2 separate regions of the Homo sapiens genome follow, and region 1 is linked to region 2. A link means that fine-mapping ties the variant in region 2 to the expression of a gene that starts in the linked region. Tissue or cell type: whole blood. Region 2 holds a variant in brackets; the other region holds the start of a gene. All regions are shown on one strand. Distances are between the middles of the regions.

Region 1 (5,000 bases), 28 kb after region 2:
GTATACTAAGAGCCATATGCTCCAGTGTTATCTGGGTTTTATAGTCTGTCCTTTTTGTTCCCACATAAATATACTGTACTGTATTAATTATTCCAACTTTCAGTTTGAGAAATATGTTGTTTGGAACAATATCAGATCAGTTGCTATATTCTGGAAAAATGCTTCTCAAACTTTAATGTGTATATGAATCCACAGGAGGACTTCTTAATGGCCAGGCACGGTGGCTCACGCCAGTAATCCCAGCACTTAGGGAGGCCGAGGTGGGCGGATCACCTGAGGTTGGCAGTTTGAGGCCAGCCTAACTAACATGGAGAAAGCCTGTCTCTACTAAAAATACAAAATTAGCTGGGCGTGGTGGCACATGCCTGTAATCCCAGCTACTCGGGAGTCTGAGGCAGGAGAATCGCTTGAACCCAGGAGGCGGAGGTTGGGATGAGCTGAGATCGTGCCACTGCACTGTAGCCTGGGCAACAAGAGTGAAACTCTGTTTCAAAAAAAAAAAAAAAAAAAAGATGCAGATTCTGACTCCACGGTATGGGGTATGGCCTGAGATTCTGCATTTCTTAAAAGACGTCTAGGGATTAAACTCTGAGTAATACCATTTTAGAGTATATTTTTTTCGTTTAAAAACGTATTTTTTATGTATTTTATGTATTTTTATGGATACAGGCTCACACATCTGTAATCCCAGCACTTTGTAAGGCCAAGGCAGGAGGACTGCTTTAGCCCAGGAATTTGAGACCACCCTGGCAACACAGTGAGACCTCATCTTCACAAAAAGTAAAAAAAAAAAAAAAAAAAAAAAATTAGCCAGGTGTGATGGCGCATGCCTGTAGTCCCAAGTACTGGGGAGGCTGAGGTGGAAGAATCACTTGAGCCTGGGAGGTTGAGACTGCAGTGAGCCATGACAGTGCCACTGCCCTCCAGCCGAGGTGATAGAGCAAGACCCTGTCTCAATTAAAAAGTGAACAACAACAAAAAAATCCCAACTTTTTCTGGACATTTTTAAATGTACACAAAGATGGCAATAACAGTATAATAAACTCTGAGTTACCCAGGTCCAATAATTATCAACACTTTGACAATCATGTTTGATTTATTCTAACATCATTATAGCATTTTTGCTTTTTTTTTTTTTGAGACTGAGTTTCGCTCTTGTTGCCTAGGCTGGAGCGCAATGGCATGGTCTCGGCTCACTGCAACCTCTGTTTCCTGGGTACAAGCAATTCTTTTTCTCCTGCCTCAGCCTCCCGAGTAGCTGGGATTACCGGCACATACCACCAGGCCTGGCTCATTTTTTTGTATTTTTAGTAGAGATGGGGTTTCACCATGTTGGCCAGGCTGGTCTTGGACTCCTGACCTCAGGTGATCCGCCCACCTCAGCCTCCCAAAGTGCTGGGATTACAGGCGTGAGCCAACCCGCCCGGCTTACAGCATATTTTTAAAAAAGATACTTGCCTGCTACCACTGACTAACTGGCCGATTTAGAAAGTTGGTTTGGTTTTTAAGGTTTTAATCTCCTTACAAACAAAATAAGCATCATAACACCTATACTTCACAGAATTGTTCTGAGGATCAAATAAAATGATGTGACAATATTTTGAAAATGATACAACTTGACTATAAATGTTAGTTTTACTTGTATTAACTAAAATTGCCAAATGAGAATCTTTGTGGACAGGTGTAGGTTGTATTACGAACATTTGAACTATGCCTACTTTTGATCTAATAAAATATTTTCTGAGCCAGTTTTTAGAGATGTCGTACAAAAGAATACTAAGCCTATCAATTGAGGAAATCTTCACTAACTAGAAGATTATTTTAAATCACGGTTCCTGTCAAATTTAATATAAAACAAGGCCATTAAAATAACAAGTCACTGGATTCAAATTTGATTTCACTTTCAAGGGGATACTTCAGTTAAGTGTATAAAAGCTACTTCAATTCAACCTAAGTCTACAAAAAAGTCCCTCTGTCCCCTTGGGAGTCCTAATTTACTGAAAATAAAAATTCTGTCTCCATAACAAGCAATCTCTGAATTAGGTCAGAGCAATACAACTGTGATTTCCACACCCAGCCCCCCACTGTTTAATCAGACCATAACTTCCACCAAAGAGAGACAGATGGTAAGTCTCCAACCTCCACCAGAGAAACAGATGGTAAGTATAGTATATAAGCATCAGGAGTGATCATTTATCACGAACATTAAAAATACAGGTAAACAAGTAGATCACTTACTGGTAGGAGTTTTTGTTGGCTTAGAACCCTCCGTCTCTTTTTCATCTGTGTATTTCAGTGCTCTTTTAGCTAGAGGCCTGGTGACTGGTCTATCTGAATTGCTCGTGGGATTCTGAATGTACTTGCAAGTGGGCAAATAGAGGTCATCGGAATCATCTCCTGAACCACTTGATTCACAGAGGCTCACTTCAGACTCGTTGTTTTCTTCTCTATTAGAGTCATTGCTCACTTTTTGTCGGAAAGGAGTAAGATGAACACCCTCTTCCAAATTAAAATTGTAAGCATCATTGGAACTGACAGATTTGTGCATTTTTTTTTGGGGAACAGTTTTTTTATTTTCGCTTTTATTCTCTTTATATTTTGACATACGTTTTGATTTTCTCCTGTTAGCTTTTCTTTTCTCTTCTCTTTTTCTTTCTTGTGTATCTCTTTGCTTACTTTTAGTTTGTTCAGATTTAGATTCTAAAATGTCTTCTTTTGTTTTAGTAAACGTTCCTGGCTGAATCAGCTTTGGTGATAAGTTAACTTGGTCCTTGCTCCATTGACAAGCATTGTGTTGTACATTTTCAGGTATGTGCATGTTTACTAGTGGGTCTAAAAATCCAACTCTTTCGAATTCAAAAGACTTCCCTGCCAAATGACTGGTTTCAAAATCATCCAAGCTATCAAACTGACATATACTGTTACAATGTTTCTTTAAACTGCTACGAACAGATACAGTTCTAGGTAAGACATTATCAGTAGACTTAGCTTCACCTGAATCAAAATCAACTCCCAGTGTGTCTTGAGGAATAGTAGGTATCTGATCTGAGAATTTAAAAAATAAATGAGAAAAGTAGTTTTACTTTGTGGAAATTTGAATTTCAAGAACTTTAGAATTCAAACTAAAAAAGTGAATGACCAAAAGGTCATTCTGTAGTTTTCCTACATTATAAAATCTGTAAATAAAAACCTGGGAACTTAAATATTACCATCTATTTACTTGTCAGTGATCAACTGATGGCTTATATCTGACATGTGAAAGAATCTTGTACAGGTTCAGTATCCCTAATCTGAAAATCTGAAATCCAAAACTTTTTTAGTGCAGTCATGATGCTCCAAGGAAATGCTAACTGGAGGGTTTTGGATTTCAGATTTTCAAATTAGGGATGATGAACTGATATAATGTAAATACTCCAAAATTTAAAAAATAAATCCAAAACACTTCTGGTCCCAAGCATTTTGGATAAGGGACATTCAATCTTTATAATCTTTAAAAACATTATAGGCCAGGCACGGTGGCTTACGCTTGTAATCCCAGCACTTTGGGAGGCCGAGGCGGGCAGATCACGAGGTCAGGAGATCGAGACCATCCTGGCTAACACAGTGAAACCCCGTCTCTACTAAAAAAAATACAAAAAATTAGCCAGGCGTGGTGGTGGGTGCCTGTAGTCCCAACTACTCGGGAGACTGAGGCAGGAGAATGGCGTGAACCCAGGAGGCAGAGCTTGTAGTGAGCTGAGATCGCACCACTGCTCTCCAAGCCTGGGCGACAGAGCAAGACTGTCAAAAAAAAAAAAAATTATAACAGGCTTTTATGTGCTCTTGGTTTAAAGAAAATGAATAGTCTATATGTATCATTGAGTACAGATTCAGAGAAGTAGAACCGCATATTCCAAAGTGGGACAAATGAGAAAGTGGGAGCTAAGTTGTTCTTTGAAAAATAAATAAGATTTGAATAACTAGAAAGCTTCTCAGGTAAGAAATATAATTTGTATTTTAAGGAAAAGTGGGGCTATGTCTGGTTTTGCTTATTCAAATACTATCCTTCCTTCGACGTCTGGTTTTGCTTATTCAAATACTATCCTTTCTTCAATGCTTGGTTCAAGTGGAGGAGATTGACACTTGAGAACATGGACATATCAATTTAAAAGTAGTAAGAAAGGGATGGCTTTGGAGTTCAACTTTGATTTTAAATGCTAGCTGTTAACATCTAGACTTCTTCATGTGAGATATTTTACCTTCTTGAGTTCCTATAAAACAGGACTAACTGTACTTATAGTCCTAGGTTGTTGTGAGGGTTAGGTGAGATTATGCACATAAAATGCCTAACATAGAGCTTGACACGTAGTAGCAATCAGTAAATTGCTGCCATAGTTATAGCCAAAGATTCAGATTACAGATTTGACACAATAAATATATTTTAACACTCTATTACTCTGTGTAAAATAAACAGATTTGCTTTGAGCAGAATACCAGATGAACAAATTTAAAAAGTTAAAAAAAAAGAATTAGATAAATTTAATTGTATTATTTGTTCTCAAAGACCTTATTTTGCCCTTAATAATATTTTTAGATTTTCACTTGAATTACCTTCTATTTGAAATGATTCTCCTTGTCCTGGAAGTTCAGTTTCTTCAAGAGGAATTTGCCTTAGAAAATACCAATGAAAAACAGAAATTTAACAATTATGTAATAAAAACAAATTCAGTATTTTCCTAAATTATAATTTTTCTTTCCTTTAGTATCATTTCATAATTCGATTTCAAATCAATACATCTATTCTGTATCAAAGGAAACCAAAGGACACTTATGCTGATTACAGGGAGACTGATTTGTTATGACTGACATTCAATTCCCACTTGAAGAACCAACCTATCAAGTTGGAGAGTTCCACCTGAAAACACATTATATAACTCAATTTAACTACGGAAACAGCCCATGAGAATTAATTTGTTAAATGTTTTTTAAAAAATGTAGTTTGATCACTCAACTCTTTAGGA
Region 2 (5,537 bases):
TCTGAGATGCAAGTCAAAACCACAATGTGATACTATCTCACACCAGTCAGAATGGCTATTATTAAGAAGTTAAAAAAATAACAGATGTTGGCAAAGCTGTGGAGAAAAGGGAATGCTTATACACTCTTGGTGGGAATGCAAATTAGTTCAGCCCCTGTGGAAAGCCGTTTGGAGATTTCTCAAAGAATTAAAAATAGAATTACCATTCCACACAGAAATCCTATTACTGAGCATATACCCGAAGGAAAATAAATTGTTCTTACAAAAAGATACATGTGCTTTTATGTTCATTGCAGCGCTATTCACAATAACAAAGACATGAAATCAATTCAGGTGCCCATCAAAGGTAGATTGGATAAAGAAAATGTAGTACATATACACCATGGAATATTATGCAGCCATAAAAAAGAACAAAATCATGTCCTTTGCAACAGTGTGGGTTTAGCTGGGGCCATTATCCTAAGCAGATTAACACAGGAACAGAAAACAAAATACTGCATGTTTTCTGTTATAAGTGGGAGCTGAACATTGGGGATATATGCTCACAAAGATGGGAACAGTAGACACTGGAGTTTCCAAAAGAGGCAAGAGAGGGAGAGGAGTAAGGGTTGAAAAACTACCTGTCAGGTACTGTGCTCACTACTTGGGCAGTGAGATCATTAGAAGCCCAAACCTCAGCATCACACAGTATACCCATAATACCCCCTGTATCTAAAATGAAAACAATAAATTAAAAAAGATCTCTTCTCCATACTGATTACTAGAGGTACAGAGAGCTTAGGACGCCTCCCATTCCCATTAACAGTCACTTCTCAGGAGCCCACAATCTTTAAGGTGCTACATGAGGTGAGTGGAAGCCATCTGTAGGTCATTGCATTTGAGAGTCCCTTGGTGAAGAGAAGGAAACTTTCAAATTGAAACAGTCTTCAGCATATTCTCTGAAGGTGTCGATTTAAGAGATTGCCCTTGGGATTCTTTTTTTTTTTTTTTTTTTTTTTTTTTTTTGAGACAGCGTCTCACTCTGTCACCCAGGCTGGAGTGCAGTGGCATGATCTTGGCTCACTGCAAGCTCTGCCTCCTGGGTTCGCACCATTCTCCTTCCTCAGCCTCCCGAGTAGCTGGGACTACAGGCACCCGCCACCATGCCCAGCTAATTTTTTGTAATTTTTAGTAGAGAAGGGGTTTCACTGTGTTAGCCAGGATGGTCTCGATCTCCTGACCTCGTGATCTGCCCACCTCGGCCTCCCAAAGTGCTGGGATTACAGGCGTGAGCCACCAAGCCCAGCCAGGTTTCTTTTTTCTTTTTTTTTTTTAAGATTTGGACTTATAATAAATAAATGGACTTAAAATAAATAAATGGAAAGCACCCATCTAGATCAGCCTTGTCAAAAGTAGCAGTCACTAGCCACATGTGGCTACTGAGGACTTGATATGTGGTTAGTCAAAATTAAGGCATGCTGTAAGTATAAAATCCTCTGATTTTCATTTCTTTCTTTTTCTTTTTTTTTTTTTAAGAGGAAGTCTCGCTCTGTCACCCAGACTGGAGTGCAATGGCACAACCTTGGTTCACTGCAACCTCCACCTCCCAGGTTCAAGCAATTCTCCTGTCCCAGCCTCCTGTGTAACTGGGATTACAGGCGTGCACTACCATGCCCAGCCCATTTTTTGTATTTTTAGTAGAAATGGGGTTTCACCGTGTTGGCCAGGCTGGTCTCGAGCTCCTCACCTCAAGTGATCCACCCACCTCGGCCTCCCAAAGTGCTGGGATTACAGGTGTGAGCCACTGCACCTGGCCAATCCTCTGATTTTCAAGAGTTCATATGAATAAAGCAATGTAAAATATCTTACACTTTTTTCCAATTGTATGTTACAATGACATTTTAGATATAATGGGTTAAATGAAATACATTATTAAAATCAATTTCACCTGTTTCTTTTTGCCTTTTAAAAATGCGGCTAGTAGAAAAATTTAAATTACATGCGTGGCTTGTATTATGTCTCTATTGGACAGCACTGATCTAGATTTACTAGGAATATACTTTTACTAGTCCCATTCATTTTATGAAGTTATTTGTTTAACTGTTAGGATTACATATTCATGCTGCAGTATTTACCAGCTATATGTTTGAAATCAATCAGGAAGTAGATTTTTTTGTTTTCCTTTGTGAATGCAATTAGTGATTTCTATTGTTTTGTTTCGTTTTTCCAAAATTTCGTTATGATATGTTTAATTTCCGGATGGGATTTTTTTAGTTTTTTTTTTTTTTTTTTTTTTTTTATTAAAGG[G/A]ATAACCTCACTGTCTTGGAAGTAGTTACCTCAGCATATTAATAATTATTTTACAAAACAAACAAAACATCTCTCAAAATTTCTCAGTCAGTGTGATGGCTTATGTCATGGTTGTGTTGCTTTAATAGATGATACTTTAAATTGCATTATTCTTTTCTTTCTTCTCATGACAGCCTACTATTATAGAGCTGCTTTTTTGATGCAGCCAGAATAGGTTGGAGGTCCAGCCTTGAAAAATTTAAATAGTAAAGCTTTAACAACTGTAGGCTTTTGGGACTTTCTGGGGCCCGTTTACCTGCTTCTCTAGTCCGAAGGGAACAGTTCCTAGTTATGGGAAGTGAAGAGGTTCTGTCACTTGACTGAGTAGTGAATGCTCAGGGCTGCTTTCCTGTAATTCTGGCAGAGCCTCCTCAGAGAAGCAGGGCAAAATAATTGGCTCTTATGCTACAGATGACAAGTGGGCCCTAGGGGCTGTGTGTTTTCTCAATATTGGCTTTTCTGGATGTCAGGGACAAGTAACTCAAAGATGTTTTTGTGAATGTCACTAAATAGACATGGTATAATATAATCTGTTCATTTCTTACTTGTTAAATAGCATTCACCCCTTTCTCCCATCTTATTTCATAAAAAAGACTGTTTTGTTAGGAAAACATTTCATTAGGTTGACTGACTTGAACTGTATCCATAGACTTCTTTCCCTAAACACATTTCCTTCCTGTGCTTTACAGATAATTAAAAAACTGATTGAAAGAAAACAGGCACAAATTCGAAAAGTTTACCCTGGACTTTCATGTTTTAAAGATGGAGTTCGACAGATTCCTATAGAAAGCATTCCTGGAATTAGTACGTATAGACCTTCTTTTAAAAGCGAAATTTTTTAGTAATGCCGTGGTTTGTGTTTGAAACAATTTCCAGAATGCAGTAACTTCGAAAGCTTTATTGCCCTGCCCGTCTCTGTGTTATCTCTAGTCTTTTAAGAAGGCAGCAAATGTTACCCTTTTATGTCTTCCCTACCACCCAATACAAACAAACCAAAGGGAGCTTAGATGCCCCCTTGTAATAGCTGTTAATATCCACCACTTAATGAGTCTGCCATTTGTAGCACAGTGCGAATTATTACACATATGCAACCTTGAAAGCAGGGAATCCTATTTTATAAATGGGGAAATCGAGTTCCAAAGCAGTTAGATCATTTACTGTTAAAGGGCACATAGCCAGTAACGGTCAGAATTAGAAGCAGCCCAGTTCTGATGGCCGAACACCTTACTGTTTGCACCATGTCTCATTGCCACCATGGTTGCAGCCTCCAAGATCTGTGCTTGACTAGTCTCCCCAAACTTCTAAAAAATACTATTTGTTATGTGTGGTGGAAATCATATACCTTGTTTCATATTCCCTATTTTACAGTAGTTTTCCTAAGGGTTCTTGTCTGTATGTTAGAGTTGAGTTGTGTTGGGTTAAACCATACCAAATAGTTGTTTTTATAGGTCAAAAGCCATTGAATATCATTGGCAATTTTGTTCAGTTCAAATCCAGGTTCTTTTTAGTATATTTAAGCTTTAATAAACAAAATCAAACAAGCAAAAATTTTCCAGAAAAAATAAGATGTTATTTGGACAAGATATATCACTTTATTACATGTGCCCTCTGGCAGATCTTACTTTTATGCTAAATCCAGAAATTCTACTTCCATGTATTATCTCTATTAATGACATAATAGCAACCATATCATTGAATGCCTACTTGTGCCACGCATTTATCTGTTTTTGTTTTTTTTTTTGTACATTAACTACTCTCAACAGGGATAAAACCACCTAATTTTTAGGGTTCTGTTTTATAGATTGATAAACTGAGAGGCAACTTACTCTTATTTAGGGTGAGTTACCTTTTAAGGAAAGAACAGGAAATCACATCCAGATCTGTCAGACTCCAGGCTGTTTTCTATCTGCTACACTAAACTTTCTTGCATTACAAGCAGGGCCTTAGCCAAATAGAACAGAGACCAGGACAGAGTTTGTTCTGACCTAAAATAACAGCTTAACTCTTTTACAGGGTGATCAGCCCAAAATTTGACTTTCAGTTTAAAAAATACACAGGCCCACAGTACTGTACATATTTATTTTTTATGCTCTCCACTGAAAGGTTGGTGTTCCTGCTTTAAAACACTAACATATGGGGCAGCGTTGTTAGTCTTGGAAATGTTTTATATTGTTAGTGGTATAAGGAAGTAACTAATTGCCATTAATTTCAGTCGTCTCTCAGAAGTAGACTTTTATTGTCATGCCTATAATTTCTTGTTTTTGATAAGTATTAACTATGTTATTCTCTTGACCAAAAGCACTTCTCATTCAGTGTTTCACTTTGTTGACGTATAGGAGAGACAGGCTGGAAACCGAGTGGAAAAGAGAAAAGGTAAGTATGACGGGCAAGAGGATGTTAATGGAAGTGATTTTTTTTTTTCCCCACCAAGCAACTTAAAGAAAAACGGCAAACTAATTGTAATCACTAACACAACAGTTGGTGGGTTTTGAGTTTCCTAAAACATTCTGGAATGGTTCCAATTTCAGGTTTTTGTAAGAATGAGCTGAATAGTAATCAGCTGGCAATAGGGTAAAACTCTAATCATTGCTCCTTGTTTCCCTTTTTCCTTTCAAGTAAAGAGCCCAGAGACCCTGACCAGCTTTACAGCACGCTCAAGAGCATCCTCCAGCAGGTGAAGGTGGGTGTCCTCTTTATTCACCTCATGCAAATATTTTGAAATGATTTCCCACATGGAATTTCCATATTAGATACCTTACTTTTTTCTTTACCCAAGAGCCATCAAAGCGCTTGGCCCTTCATGGAACCTGTGAAGAGAACAGAAGCTCCAGGATATTATGAAGTTATAAGGTTCCCCATGGGTAATACCATTAACATTTTCTAAGTATAGATTTAAAACTCTGGATGGCGGTGTGGGGGACAAATGGTTGCTGAGGTTGATTTGTACTCCTCTGCTTAGGGTAGGAAGTGTATGACGGGTGGTGGGATTCCATGCACCGTGGCGGGTCAGTGATGGCAGAGAAGTGGGTGGCTGTGTTCATTAGAGACATTCTGCAGCTGTCGTTTAGAGCCCACATGAGCTTAACGACACTAGACGCAGAAAATCCACGGTAACTGCAGACAGCACTAGATTTGAAAGCTGGCACTTTAGATATAACTTTGCTTATATTCTAACTCTTTGGTGCAAATAGAAAAACATCAGCTTATCCTCT

Evidence for each region. PIP is the estimated chance that this variant, and not a neighbour inherited with it, causes the effect. A credible set is the group of variants that fine-mapping cannot tell apart.
Region 1: SGO1-AS1 starts here. The variant in region 2 is the best candidate, but not a certain one, in a credible set for the expression of SGO1-AS1 in whole blood (TOPMed, PIP 0.90).

The regions. Positions count from the first base shown.
Region 1 is chr3:20,172,011-20,177,010 of GRCh38, forward strand. It overlaps SGO1-AS1 (SGO1 antisense RNA 1), which reads left to right and starts at 2,276. Exons shown (of 4, transcript NR_132785.1): 1 at 2,276-2,515; 2 at 2,725-2,808. SGO1 (shugoshin 1) reads right to left here. Exons shown (of 8, transcript NM_001199251.3): 5 at 4,591-4,649; 6 at 2,239-3,045.
Region 2 is chr3:20,143,302-20,148,838 of GRCh38, forward strand. KAT2B (lysine acetyltransferase 2B) reads left to right here. Exons shown (of 18, transcript NM_003884.5): 14 at 3,015-3,129; 15 at 4,662-4,698; 16 at 4,942-5,005; 17 at 5,102-5,186. Among named protein-coding and RNA genes, the nearest start is that of MIR3135A, 8.5 kb to the left of the region's middle. The variant G/A (reference allele first, on the strand shown) is at 2,287.